Linked DNA regions of Homo sapiens. The protein of the gene in region 2 purifies or fractionates together with the protein of the main gene of each other region. This does not show direct contact. Each region holds a gene or a part of one and is shown on either strand. Other genes may lie near its edges.

Region 1 (7,436 bases), on a different chromosome or scaffold from region 2:
CCTTCTGTAAAATGTTGGAGGATTAAATGAGATAATATAGGCAAAGGTCCTGGCAAGTACTTGACTTAGTAGATACACAGAAAATAATAGCTTCTGTCATTACTATCACTTTGTCAAAGTCAAGCAGTAGGTCAAGTGCCCACCAGATTAGATACTGAGAAGAGTGTGTATTTTAATTCACATCATGAGGATTGTTGACCTGTACTTCATCTTCTAGGGTCTTTGCAGCCCCACCTCTGGGTATGCCCAAACTTCAGGGATTTCTGCAACCAGGGCTTTGGTGCAAGAACAGCTGATTCACTTAGGGCAGGGAGAGGGCTTTTGAGCCTTTATTGGTCACTTCTCTCAGACTTGTTTTTGAATCTATGCAGAAGCCTAACTAGCTAGTCCTGAACCTCAGAATGGGCACCCATAGTACTTCAGTGCCCGCTGTTACCATGCAAAAGGAGGAAGATTCCTTGGCTTAAGTTTATATTTCATCCTTTGTTTTAACATCAGCCTATATCCCATGGCTATTAATTCACATCTAAGCAGACTGTTGAGAATTATAGAGCTGTTTACTTGTCAATCTAAAAGAAAGAGGCTGAAACACAAAATATGATTTGAAGACTTTACTTGAGCCAAAGGGAGGACAGCTGCCTGGAAGACTCAGACCCAAGTAAAATTGGTTTTGAGCTCTGCTCAGCCTTTGTTACAAGCAGGTTTTTAAAGGCAAAAAAAGTGATACAAAGTTTTTTTTTTGGAATTCTCATTGGTTTGCAGAAATAACATTAATTAGTGATTGGTTACATATTGTTAAGCTGTAAGGTGTGGGTTATATGTCCAGTGCAGCATTATTAGATTAATTTATGGTTACTTGCAGCAATAGCAAGTAGTTTTAAGAGGTGAATACATAGCCCAAAGGTGGAGTAGGGGGAAGTAAAATGTGATTTCTGTCTCATTTAAATGTCTCTCTGATAATTTGAAGGACTCACATTCTTCAGATAAAAGTTCTTTCCTTTCTTCAACTTTTCACAACAACATTCAAAGGAGGTATTTTAACATTTATTTTTATTTTTACTTTTAGTAGAGATGGGGTTTTGCCATGTTGCCCAGGCTGCTCTCAAACTCCTGAGCTCAGGCAATCTGCCCTCCTCGGCCTCCCAAAGTGATAGCGACAGGAGACAGACAAATTCCTGGACAGATAGAAAAGGGTCCCTGGTGAAACTAGACTTTCAAGACAAAGACAGTTTAAAGCCTGAAAACTGGGCTGCCAGTTCTGGGTAGAGTCCACAACCAGAGTGAGAACTTCCTTGATACCTTTTAGCTAATCGAATGGTGCTTTTTCCAGGCCTGCCTATGGACAAATCTGAGCCGATGAAAACCCCAGACTCAGCCTCACAGAGGGCTACCTGTTTTGGGGCCCCTCTCACACAGTGGTCTACCCACTGTCTGGTCCCCTCTTTGCTGAGAGCTTTCCTTCTGTCACTCAATAAAATTATTCTCTGACCTACTCACTCTCCTTTGTCTGCATGCTTTATTCCTCTTGGTTGCAGGACAAGAACCCAGGACCTGCTGAGCTGCAGGTGGCAGGAACAAGCTGTAACATACCCGTATTTGCTGAGCTGTGGGCACTGGGACCAAGTGAGAGCTGTGACACACCCCCATTCACTGAACTGCAGGCAGCAAGACTAAATAAGAGCTGTGACATGCCCCCATTTGCTGAGCTGCAGGCAGTGGGACTGAACAAGAGCTGTGAGGTGCCCTCATTTGCTGAGCTGCAGGTGGCAGGAACAAGCTGTAACATACCCGTATTTGCTGAGCTGTGGGCACTGGGACCAAGTGAGAGCTGTGACACACCCCCATTCACTGAACTGCAGGCAGCAAGACTAAATAAGAGCTGTGACATGCCCCCATTTGCTGAGCTGCAGGCAGTGGGACTGAACAAGAGCTGTGAGGTGCCCTCATTTGCTGAGCTGCAGGTGGCAGGAACGAGAGAGAGAGCTGTAACATTTCTTGGGGTCTCAGGCCTTGGGATTCCCCAAGCAAAGCTGTAACACCCCTTAGGGCTCCGCAGTTGCTGGCATCTCCGAGTTTCTTAGTGCCACTGTGTTCCCTTCATTTAGACACTGGTGCCCAAGGTGGAAGCAGGTCACAGCACTCCCCGTCCTGCCACTGACTGAGTGTGGATCCTATGGCTCAGGAGTTCAAGACTGGCCTGGGCAACATGGTGAGACCTCATCTCTACAAAAAATTTTAAAAAAATAGCCATGCATAGTGGTCACTGTACTCCAGACTGGGTGACAGAGTGGGAGCCTGTGCCCCCCTCCCCCCAAAAAAGAGAATGTAACATTAATTTACAGGGTCTCTTTTAAAAATCTAATACAATGTTATCTTTTCTTGCTGAAGGAGCAGGGTCGTATCCTAAGGTTAAATCAATTTATAGGAAAAATATAACACACAGTTCCAAAGTGTAACAATTTGACCAAGAGGAATTTGATTCTGGTGCTGTTTCAAATTTTATTTGCAGGGTTCTTTCTTTTCACTTTTATGTTTTTTTCCCTTTTATTTTTAGTTGACATATAATAATTATACATATTTATGGGATACAGAGTAATATTTTGATACATGTATTCAATGTGTGATGATCAAATCAAAGCAATTAGGATACCTATCACCTCAAACATTGATCATTTCTTTGTGTTGGGAACATTCCAAATCCTCTCTTCTAGCTTTTTGAACATATACATTAAATTATTCTTAACTGTATTCACTCCATAGTGCTACAGGATGCTGGAACTTATTCCTCTTCTCTAGCTGTAACTTTGTATCTATTAACCAACTTCTTCCCATCCTCCACTTCCCTCTACCCTTCCCAGCCTCTGATAACCACAATTTTACTCTCTACTTCTATGAGCTCATTTTTTAAGCTTCCATATATGATTGGGAACGTGGTTTTTTATCTTTCTGTGCATGACTTATTTCACTTAACATAATGTCCTTCAGGTTTGAGGACTGAGAAGAGCAGACATTTTATTGTTCATCTCCATGTTGAGAATCAGAAATGTCCCCAATTAAAAAGTGATTACAAATATGTTATATCAGGAACTGTGGCTTGCCTGTGGGTCCTGGGTGGGCAAATAACTAATTTACATTCAATAGGAATGAGCTTGAAATTTCCTAGACATGATATGATTTGGCTGTGTTCCCTTCCAAATCTCATCTTGAATTGTAGTTCCCATAATCCCCACATATCATGGGAGCAACCCAGTAGGAAGTAAGTTAATCATACGAGCAGTTACCATCATGCTGTTCTCGTGATAGTGAGTTCTCACTAGATCTGATGGTTTCATAAGGAAGGGGCTTTCCCCATTGCTGCTCAGTGCTTCTCTTTCCTGCCACCGTGTGAAGAAGGACGTATTGGCTTCCCCTTGCACCATGATTGTAGGTTTCCTGAGGCTTCCCAAGCCATGCTGAACTAGAAGTCAATTTAACCACTTTCCTGGCCAGGCACAGGCCCATGCCTATAATCCCAGCACTTTGGGAGGCTGAGGCAGGTGGATCACTTGAGGTCAGGAGTTCAAGACCAGCCGGGCCAACATGGTGAAACCCTACTAAAAATACAAAAATTAGCTGGGCATGGTGGTGCTTGCCTGTAATCCCAGCTATGTAGGAGGCTGAGGCAGGAGAGTTGCTTGAACCTGTCAGGTGGAGGTTGCAGTGAGCTGAGATTGCACTGCTGCACTCCAGTCTGGGCTACAGAGTGAGACTGCATCTCAAAAAAAAAAAAAACCAAAACAAACAAAACAAAACAAAACCCCTCTCTTTCCTTTATAAATTACCCAGTCTGGGGTATGTCTTTATTAGCAGTGTGAGAACAGACTAATACAGACTACAAGGGTGGGAAATCCATTCTTTTGGGCCAAGTAATCTTACTTTTTTTCTGATGTTCAGTGGATAGGCTGATGTCAAACTTCAAATAGTGAATTATCATAAAGGAAGAAGAGCAGAGGGTGGTGCTGGGGGTAAGATATGCAGCACAAAGGCTACGTGGGTCTGATTTCCCAGACTTCAGGCTCTGAATGACACCTACCCAGGCTTGACTGGGAAGCTCCTATGTCTTAGCCCCTGAATTAATCAGAGGGATTCCTGCCTGGGAACGAAAAGCAGACATTCTCTATCAGGGTCCCTTATTCTTTTCTGAGTACTGGCCCCCCTGAGAGTACAGTAGAAGCTATGAATCTTCCCCCTACAAAAAAGCACTCATGTACCTTCAAACAAAATTGTTCTCAGTTTCCGTGATGCTCTTAGATAAAAAAATTTACAAGACCTCCGGTTTCTGGTTTCTGGGGCCCCACACAAGTGTGCTGGGTGGAGAGAAAATCTCAGTGGTTTTTTTTTTTTTCTCTCTAACCCTGTTTGGTAAGTTCCGTTTTTAGCCCCGGCCTTTTTCTAGCCAGGCTCTCAACTGTCTCCTGCGTTGCTGGGAAGTTCTGGAAGGAAGCATGTGCTCCAGAGGTTGGGATTCGTGTCTGGCTCTGGAATTGCTACTGCTGCCTCTGTCACTCCTGGTGACCAGCATTCAAGGTACTTTCCACCAACTGTGTATCTGTGATTGTGCACTGAAGGCATGGTCAGTTGGGAAAGGGGAGACGGGATGTAGTTCAACCCTAGAAGCCAGATCTGGTGTCTGGAAAGCAGGTATTTCCATTCCAATAGCATGGCCATGGCATGGTTGGGGAGCCTTTCTTAGCACTGATGAATGGAGCTTCATCTCCTTTCCCACGGGGATGTGATCAAAACAGGAACCTGGGGAGCAAGAGAAGTAGGCTCCTCATATTTTGTCCCGTGGTTGGTGGTCCATGAAGTTGTGGAAAAGTGTTTGTTTTTTCATTTTGAATAAGAAGAAGCTCTACACTGACAGCTGCTGCATTTTATGCTCAGACACACTGTACTCCCTTAGGCATTCTTTGAGACCTCTGTATATGTGAGGTGTTGCATCCTGAGCCAAGGTAAATGATATTGTCATTGACCCAAAGAAAAGATAGATCAAAATTATAGGAAGAAAAGCTTGGAAAGGATTGCTGTCTGGGGTCTCTGAATGAGGGTCTGAGAAGAGGCTGGAAGTGCTTCAGCATCAAAGGAACCTTAACACATCTGATTGCTAAGAGTTAAGGTCCATTCCTCTGCCACAGCCTGTTCGGTCCCCGGTGTGTGACCAAGGGCTGAGCTAACTTTCCTTCTCCTGTTAGAGCTGCCTCACCCTCTTTCTTCATCCAGTACCTCTCTTCTTATGCCAGCTGAGAAACAGCAGTGAAACCTTTGACTTTCTTGCTATTCCCCCAAGTAAATACTCAAGTCTTTTTAATTTAAAGGGCTTTAATGCTCACCACTCTGAGTAAAACAGTAAAAATCAACAAACATGTGGTAGTCACACTGTGGCATAAAATGATGATAGTTTGTAACTTTTGGGGAGATGAGGTAGAATGTGTGGAGGATCGGTCTCTCACATATTCTACCTCTCAGGTAGAGTCCTTTGGTTCATGACTGTGTGAGTCTACGGCTATATAGGTTCTGTGGGCCTGACTCAATGCATAGGACATTGGTATGACCTTGGGATTGGGGGCTGATGTGAAGTATTCATCTAACTATTGGGAAAAGCAGGGTTGCCAATGAGAATTGGAATATTTTAGGACTTTCTCTAGGCATACTGAAAACATCCTGACAGTTGACCTTTCTCTGACTTCTTTTCTAGGCTTCATCTTGGTCATTTATTCTTCTTTGAAACAATCAGACCACACCTGATTATGTTATCCTTTGAATGGATAATATTGGTTTTGATGAGGTTAGTAAACCTGGGTTATAACACCCGGGCTATAACCTGGGTTAGTAAAATACAAATTAAGCACTTACTGTGTGTCAGACATTGTGCTAGGCCTTTTGCATACTTTTTCATTTAACTTTCATTAGAAAATAGTGAGGTGGCTATTATTATCTACATTTTTCAGATGAGAATACTGTCTTGCAGAGAGATTAAGAAATTCTCCTAAGGGCACACAGGTCTAACTTCCAAACCATTCTATTATGATTATACCTTTCCTAGACTAAGGCGAGGGAATCTTGGTGAAGGTCAATGTGTCTAAATCTCTTAATTTTACTGTTTGCCTTAAAAGAGGCGTTTTCTCTTACCTCTGGGCTTATGTACATGCCTTCTTTCCACCTAGATTTCTCTCCCTCCTGCCCTCTCCCTGCCTCTCTTTTAGGCTTCTGTTTTTATGTGACTTCTTCTTGGACTGTCTGCCTGTGACTGTGTTCTGAAGGCATGGTTAGATGGGAACCTCAGGCTCCAGATTATGGTTTGTGAATTGCTTGGTGGATCATCTGTTTCCTTGAACTTTTTGAGGACAGAAACCATGTGCAGTGTTGTGCTGCTGAACTTAGCACAGGCCTGGAGTGTGGCATGTGCTCAATAAATAATTGTTACACAAATGAATGAACAACTTCAAAAAACTTCCTTTTGGACTACACATCCATATCTTCCTGAGAAGTGCAAGTAGTTCTCTCCTCTGCCGTAAGGGATGCTTCTGTGGAAAACTTTGAGAAGCACTCTTAGCTCTCTTCTTCCTTCTCTCCTCAGACTTGGGTTTCTCAGTTCTTTGGTTTCAAGGCAATGATTTAGGGCATGCTCCACAACTACCCAATTCCCCATCTGTCCACAACACTTAGCAGGATGAAGTAGACAGAGTATTGTACTAGAAATGAGATGACCTAGTTCTATCTGGGTTCCATGCTGTGGAATTTTCAACAAGTCATTAAAGCTTCCTGAGCCTCAGCTTCCTCAGCTCCATAATGGGTATAATAATCTGTTCCTCATTTCTTCAAGGGGTTGCTATTAAGATCAAATAAAATAAAAAATGTGCAATTGCTTTGCAATTGTGACACATGCGGAATCCGATACAGATGAAAACCTGGGAAGAGCATCAGTAAATTCTTAAGCCCCAAGCAGTCTCCTGAGCCCAAGATCAGAACTTCTGTCTCTTAAACATCTTCTCTAGACTCTCCAGACACGTGTCTAAAACTTAAGTCATCATCTCTGTTTCCGCTATGTATTGCTATTTAACAAGCTGCCACAATACCGTGGCTTAAAATAATAACAATGATTTACTTTGCCCACAGATTTGGGGGAAGACTGTTCATCCTGTCTCACTTTCATGTGCTTTTCATGTGCTTGCAATCAGATCATGGTGTGGCCTAGAGTCATGCAAGGCTCTTCACTCACAGGGCTACTGCCTGAACAGAGGGAGGCTCAAAGTGCTGGGTGGCTAGTGCCACTCAGCAGAAGCCTCCCAGAGTTGGTGTCCCAAGAGAAATAGGCAAATGCTGCATGGTCTTTTCTAAGCTAGCTTTGCAGGTCACACTTCCGGTGTATTCCATTCATTGAAGCCATCACCGAGCCT
Region 2 (6,897 bases):
AGGGGTGGGTGGGAGTGTAGCTGCCCAACAGGCTCATTCTGCTTGCTGCCCAGAGAGAGCCGATTTATCAGGGCAGAGAGAAACTGCAACACGGAAAGTTTAATTCACGCGGAGCCGGCTGAACGGGAGGCTGGAGCTTTATCACTACTCAAATTTTAAAGGATAATTTGGTGGGTAGGGGTTGGGAAGCAGGGAGTGCTGATCGGTTGGGTTGCAGATGAAATCACAGGGAGTCGAATCTGTCCTCTTGTGCTGAGTCACTTCCTGAGTGGGGGCCACAAGACCAGGTGAGCCAGTTCATGGATCTGGGTGGCACCAGCTGTTCCACCAAGTTCAGAGTCCGAAAAATGTCTCGAGCACCAATCTTAGGATTTACAATAGTGATGTTTTCCCTAAGAATAATTGGGGAGGCTTAGAATCTTGTGGCCTCCAGCTGCCTGACTCCTTTTTTTTTTTTTTTTTTTTTTTTTGAGACGGAGTCTCGCTCTGTCACCCAGGCTGGAGTGCAATGGCGTGATCTCTGCTCACTGCAAGCTCCGCCTCCCAGGTTCAGGCCATTCTCCTGCCTCAGCCTCCCGAATAGCTGGGACTACAGGCGCCTGCAACCACGTCCGGCTAATTTTTTGTATTTTTAGTAGAGACGGGGTTTCACCATGTTAGCCAGGATGGTCTTGATCTCCTGACCTCGTGATCCGCCTGCCTCGGCCTCCCAAAGTGCTGGGATTACAGGCGTGAGCCACCGCGCCCGGTCCTGCCTGACACCTAAAACATAATTTCTTTTTTATTTTTCATGAAAGCCACTGACTTTCTTGATCTAAAAAACTTTACAAGGACAGTGACTGTTCTGCCAAAAAAGGAGCCAAATAGTATCAAATGGACTGAAAGTGAGGGTGGAGGTGAGGGACGGGGCCAGGAATCCATTCAGGAAAGCTGGTAACTGTCACCAGGGAAAGTGAAAAAGGAAGGGGGAGACATGCAAGAGTGAGAGTCCAAAAAAGTTGAAATGGTTAGGGGAGAAAACTCCCAAAAGACCCAGAGTGCGTCAGACGTGAGTATGACAATAGCAATCTTCTCCTTTGTAGAGGACAGGGGAGGAGTCCCGACTCGGCTACAAACTCTGGGTGAGGGCTGGGGATTGAGAGCTTCCTGGAGAGCATCACAAGAAGGCATCGCATGCTCTCGAAGGCATCCGAAGTCCCGGGACTGCTTGGTGTTGGCACCACGAGTCCTTTGGCCATTCCCGGAACAGGTCTTCATCTTTCCTCAGCACCAGAAACTGGCCAAGGACAACATAGGCCTTGTCAAAGCCCCTTTCCTCCAGCTTCTTGCCCAGGACTTCACCAATCCTGGCCAGGCTCCCCACTAGCTTTTCCCCCATGGGCTCTGCCCTGAAGTCTCGGTGCTTTTGGGAGGTTGGCATCTTGATCAGGCTTAATCGGCAACTTCAGTTCCCGTAACGGTTCCTCCCGCCACCCGGCCGCTCCGGCCGATACCTCAAGCCACTAGAAGTTTCCTAAACCATAATTTCTAATCTTGTGACTAATTTGTTAGTTTTACAAAGGCAGTCTGGTCCCCAGGCAAGAAGGGGGTTTGTTCAGGAAGGGGCTGTTTTCATCTTTGTTTCAACATTAAACTATAAACTAAGATCCTCCCAAAGTTGGTGTGACCTACACCCAGGAATGAACAAGGACAGGTTGGAGGTTAGAAGCAAGGTGGAGTCGGTTAGGTCAGATTCACTATCAGGTTTTCGCAAAGGTGGTTTCAGGAGCAGCCCCAGGCAAGAAGGCCAGAGGAACATCTGTTCTCACCCAAGCCCAGCGGCTTCTTCGGGTGACCCCTCCTCAATAGCTCAGACGCTGTGGGTCACGTTGGAAATTCCTGAGTTGGCCTTTCTTGAGGGCCCTCACTCCACCCCCTTGGAAGCACGGCCTCCAATTGTGTCTGAACATGCAGCTTCGGGAGAACCATACCCTGCAGGCCGGCGGTCTCAGAGCCCCCAACAGTAGCTGCCCGCTGGGGGTTGTCGAGGAAAAGAGTGAAACCCTGTAAAATACTTGGAGAGTGATTCTGAGCCAAATATGAGTGACGGAAGGCCCATGATGCCGTCCCAGGAGATCCTGAGAACATGTGTGGCCCGAGAGGGTTGGGGTGCAGCTGGTTTGATACATGTTCGGGACACGAGACATCACTCAGTACGTGGGAGATGTACATGGGTTTGGTCCAGAAAGGCGGCGGGTGTCCAGGTCATTGGTGGATTCAGTAATTTTCCAATTGACAATTGGTCAAAAGAGTTAAGTTATTATCTAAAGACCTAGAATCAATAGAAGGGAAAGTCAGGGTTAAGATAAGGTGTTGTGGAGACCAAGTATATGCAGATAGAATCAATAAAAGGGACTATTTCTTGTCAGAGTCTGTTCTATTAGTCTTAAGGTCTCTGTTTTAATGTTAATGCTGGTCAGTTTTGCCTGAATTCCAAAAGGAGGCGGGTACAATGAGGCCTGTCTGACCCCCACTTCCCATTATGGCCTGAACTAGTTTTCAGGTTAACCGTGGAATGCCCTGGGCTTAGGGAGGGTCCATCAGTCGGGTGGGGTCAGGCGGAGATTGGAATTGTGTTTTTGTTTTACAGGGTGTGCCAGGGACGGCTAAAGAAGGTGGTCAGGGCCGGGCGCAGTGGCTCATGCCTGTAATCCCAGCACTTTGGGAGCCCGAGGCAGGCGGATCACTTAGGTCAGGAGTTCGAGACCAGCCTGGGCAACATGGCGAAACCTCGTTTCTATTAAATATACAAAAATTAGCTGGGCGTGTTGGTGCACACCTGTAGTCCCATCTACTCAGGAGGCTGAGGCGGGAGAATCACTGGAACCCAGGAGGCGGAGGTTGCAGTGAGCTGAGATCGCGCCACTGCACTCCAGCCTGGGTGACAGAGTGAGACTGTCTCAAAAAAAATAAAATAAAAAAGGCAATGAGGGCACTGGGCCCCGTGGAGCGGGCCCTGGCCACACAGCGTGCAAGACTCCTCAGGCTGGTGTGCCCAGTAAGGAAGGACAGGAGGGAGCGCCTGGAAGGGGTGGGGAAGGTGGTGGCGTTGGGGGTGAGGGTTCCACGGTGGTGGAGCTGAGCTGGTCCCGCCCTGCCGCAGGTGGTGGGCAGGGGCAGGTGTGACAGGCAGGTGGGCTGGGGCTGGATGGGGGATTTGTCACGCCCACCTGAGGAAGGAAGTGCTTCAGCTGAGCTGGGGACAGCTGCCCACGACACCCTTCCAAGTTGCCTTGGTTGTGAGCACGGTTCAGCCTTCATGACAAGCAGGTTTTTTTTTTTTGGTGTTGTTTTGTTTTGTTTTGTTTTTTGACTGAGTTTCGCTCTTTGTTGCCCAGGCTGGACTGCAGTGGCGCAATCTCGGCTCACTGCAACCTCCGCCTCCCAGGTTCAAGCAATTCTCCTGCCTCAGCCTCCTGAGTAGCTGGAATGACAGGAGCCCACCACCACGCCCACTTAATTTTTTTTATTTTTAGTAGAGACGGAGTTTCACTATGTTGGCCAGGCTGGTCTCAATCCCCTGACTTCAGGCAATCCACCTGCCTCAGCCTCCCAAAGTGCTGGGATTACAGGTGTGAGCCACCGCGCCCGGTCAACAAGCATGTTTTTAAAGGCAAATTTCTTCCTCAGTCGTGTGGCAGGCCCTGAGCAGGCAGCTGGGTGTCCCCGCTCAGATCCAGGCCCGAGTGGGCTGGGCGGCTGCAGAGCCAGTCACCTGAGCTACCCAGGGTGGGATCCCTGGCCCCGACCTCTGTCCTGACACGCCCCAAGCGGCAGCAACAAAGCCCCAATTGGCCTGGGCCTGGGCAGGAGGAGCTGGGCCGGGTGCCAGATACTGGGATCAGCCACTGCAGCTCCCTGAGCACTCTCTACAGAGACGCGGACCCCAGACATGAGGAGGTAATGCCACCATCCCTGAGCCCCAATCCCCACCCCACCCAAACCTGGAGGCCTGGCCCTTAGCCAGAGGGGGCCCAGCTGTGCTGCGCTCCAGGGGGCCTGGTTCAGGGGAGTGTGCGGGTGGGAGGGAGAAGGAGGGGCCCTCTGAGGGTCTGGGGTCTGCCACCAGGCTCTACCTCCTCTGTGGCCCCGAGTGCACTTGCCTCTTGGTTCCCCTGGCCTGGTGGAGAATCACCCAGGGACCCCCACCCGGAACAAGGAAAGGGGAGGTGCCAGGCTGAAACCAGCAGGCCTGTGACTGCCCAAAAGGAAGGGGGCTGGGGGAGGGGAGGGGCTGGGGCGCAGGAGCCAGGGGCTGCCCTGAGGTGGTGTCACCCTGGGAGCTGTGATCTGGAGCTCAGGGAAGCACCCGGGCTCCCGCTGGACCCTGGAATCAGAGGCTGCCTTCCTTCTGTGGGGGTGTCTGTCTTCCCCCTCCTTGTGTGGGGGACCCCTCTCCCCGCTCCTGTGGAGGTGCCCTCCTCCTCTTCCCCCTCCTCTAAGCCAGGGCCCTCCCTGCCCCTCCTCTCCTGGTGTTTCTCCCTTGTAGAGAGGTGGCTTCTGGGTAGCTTGGGGACCCTTTGGTGCCCAGAGCCGTTTGCCTGGAGAGGGGACCCACGGGGATCCCACAGCCAGGCTGCTTGGCAGTCACCACCGACCACCTTTCTAGGGGCTACCGTGACCCGAATCCCAGGCCCCCAGGCTGTGTGTCATGGGAGGTGGGCACCAGGGGTGGCCCAGGCAGCACGGCAGTGGGATTGGGGTCCAGTGCCCAGACAAGAGCCCCTGCCCAGCATCAGAACCAGCTGGGGGTCCTGAGGAGAAGCAGGGCCCCCGAACCAGACCAGACCAGGTCCCGGCCCCGGGCTGTCCGGGGCATCCCCCCTGCCCTTTGACCTCTCACCATGGCTGAGTCACCCAGAGAACGGGCAAAGGTCCCTGTGGAGCTGCAATCCAGGCCTGCAGGGTGTCCCAGACACTGATTCTTCTGCCTCAGCAGGAGTAGCTGCGATTACAGGTGTGTGCCACCACCCCCAGCTAAGTTTTGTTTTTTTTTTTTTGAGACAGAGTGTCTCGCTCTGTCGCCCAGGCTGGAGGGACTGCAGTGGCGCCATCTTGGCTCATTGAAACCTCCACCTCCCAGGTTCAAGTGATTCTCCTGCCTCAGCCTCCCAAGTAGCTGGGATTACAGGCACCTGCCACCACGCCTGGCTAATTTTTTTTTTTTTTTTTTTGTATTTTTAGTAGAGACAAGTTTTCACCATATTGGCCAGGCTGGTTTCGAATGCCTAACCTCAAGTGATCTGTTGCCTCAGCCTCCCAAAGTGCTGGGATTACAGGCGTGAGTCACCGTGCCCAGGCAGTTTCATATTTTTAGTAGAGACGGAGTTTTGCCATGTTGGCCAGGCTGGTCTCAAACTCCTGACCTCAGGTGATCTGCCCACCTCAGCCTCCCAAAGTGCTGGGATTATGGGTGTGAACCACTGCGCCTGCCCCAGACACCCTTGACTGCAGCCCTGCTGAGCCCTGTACAGACCCAGAGCCCCGCCCCACCCCAAGACCACCCCACCCTGACAGACGCAAGCCTCCCCCGCAGGGCCCTGAAGAGACAAGTCTGCACCACATCACACACGCACGCACACACAGACACACTCCCAAACCCTCACACTCTACACACCACACACGCATGCACACAGCACACACCCACCCCCAAACCCTTACGCTCCACCCCACACACAACATACATACACATCCAACACATACATGCACACACAGCACACACACACACCCAAGCCCACACACTCCACACCACACACAACATACACACACATCCACCACACACAAACACACATAACATACACACACAGCACACGCACCCCCGAACTCACACACTCCGCACCACACACAACATACACATGCACCACACACTGAAGCACACAGTGCACACACACCCGAACACGACACCACCCACAGCATACATGCACACCCACCATGCACATGGTCCACACCCACAAAACACACATGCACAGACAACATATGCACACCCCCCACCACATACACAAACACACACATCCCGTGTCCGAACTGACCTGACACCCTGCCTGCCTGCCTAATAGTGCTGCCATTCACCCCTGAGCCCCCCAGCCGTGGCCCCGCAGCTCTGGGACACAGCAGGTGCCCTGCCTGCAGCAGCGTGCAGCCTCAGGGCTCTGTGGGCGTGGGGCTGTGGGCCCTCGCTGCTCCATACCCACCCATACCCACACCCATGTGCAAGTGTGTTCATGTGTGTCCCCACGTGGAGGGCGGCACAGAGGCATGGCAGAACCTCTGGAGTTTCCAAGCCAACCACCAGTGCCTGCCACAGTGGGGTCTGCCCAGACTGTGAGGAGCAGAGTCTGGGGCTGGGGCTGTGGGCTCTGGCCTGAGGGGGGCTGGAGGCAGGTGGGCCTGGGGCTTCTCCCTGTTCTGTGCCTGCGTGTCTTGGCCCATGTGAGCACAGTCCAGTAAAACTACCTGCGCTCCCAAGGAGGAACCCAGCCCAGGCCTCCCAGCTGCCCATCAGGGTGCTGCCTGGAGTTCAGGGCGTCCCCTTCCCCTACCTCACACTTCCCTCTCTGGCCCCCCCTCAGGCTCCTCCTGGTCACCAGCCTGGTGGTTGTGCTGCTGTGGGAGGCAGGTGCAGTCCCAGCACCCAAGGTAGGTGTGAGCCCCTCCCATCTGGGCAGCAACTCCAGTTGTCACCTTCTGCCCCTACAGCAGGGGATGTGGACAAAGGGCCCCTCTTCTGGCTTCAAACCCCAAGCTGGCTTAGGGGAGAGAGGCATGGGTACGCTCATGACTCTTGATGCCTGTGCAGGCATGAGGAGGGGGCAGGCTTCCCTTCCCTGGGGTCAGATGGACAGGCCTCAAGACACCCAG

What was found. The genes of interacting proteins can lie anywhere in the genome.
Region 1: the proteins of PRAP1 (region 2) and CD48 purify together in Homo sapiens (affinity purification with mass spectrometry; 3 studies listed by BioGRID and IntAct, with this or other methods). This does not show direct contact.

Annotation. Positions count from the first base shown.
Region 1 is NC_000001.11:160,708,812-160,716,247, reverse strand, and holds the start of CD48 (CD48 antigen isoform 1 precursor), read left to right. Parts: upstream 1-4,425; 5' UTR 4,426-4,484; coding exon 4,485-4,566; intron 4,567-5,759; exon of another isoform or gene 5,760-5,824; intron 5,825-7,436. UniProt on the Homo sapiens protein: Glycosylphosphatidylinositol (GPI)-anchored cell surface glycoprotein that interacts via its N-terminal immunoglobulin domain with cell surface receptors including CD244/2B4 or CD2 to regulate immune cell function and activation.
Region 2 is NC_000010.11:133,343,487-133,350,383, forward strand, and holds the start of PRAP1 (proline-rich acidic protein 1 isoform 1 precursor), read left to right. Parts: upstream 1-3,886; 5' UTR 3,887-3,931; coding exon 3,932-3,939; intron 3,940-6,608; coding exon 6,609-6,675; intron 6,676-6,897. Other genes in the region: ZNF511-PRAP1 readthrough, read left to right, coding at 6,609-6,675. UniProt on the Homo sapiens protein: Lipid-binding protein which promotes lipid absorption by facilitating MTTP-mediated lipid transfer (mainly triglycerides and phospholipids) and MTTP-mediated apoB lipoprotein assembly and secretion.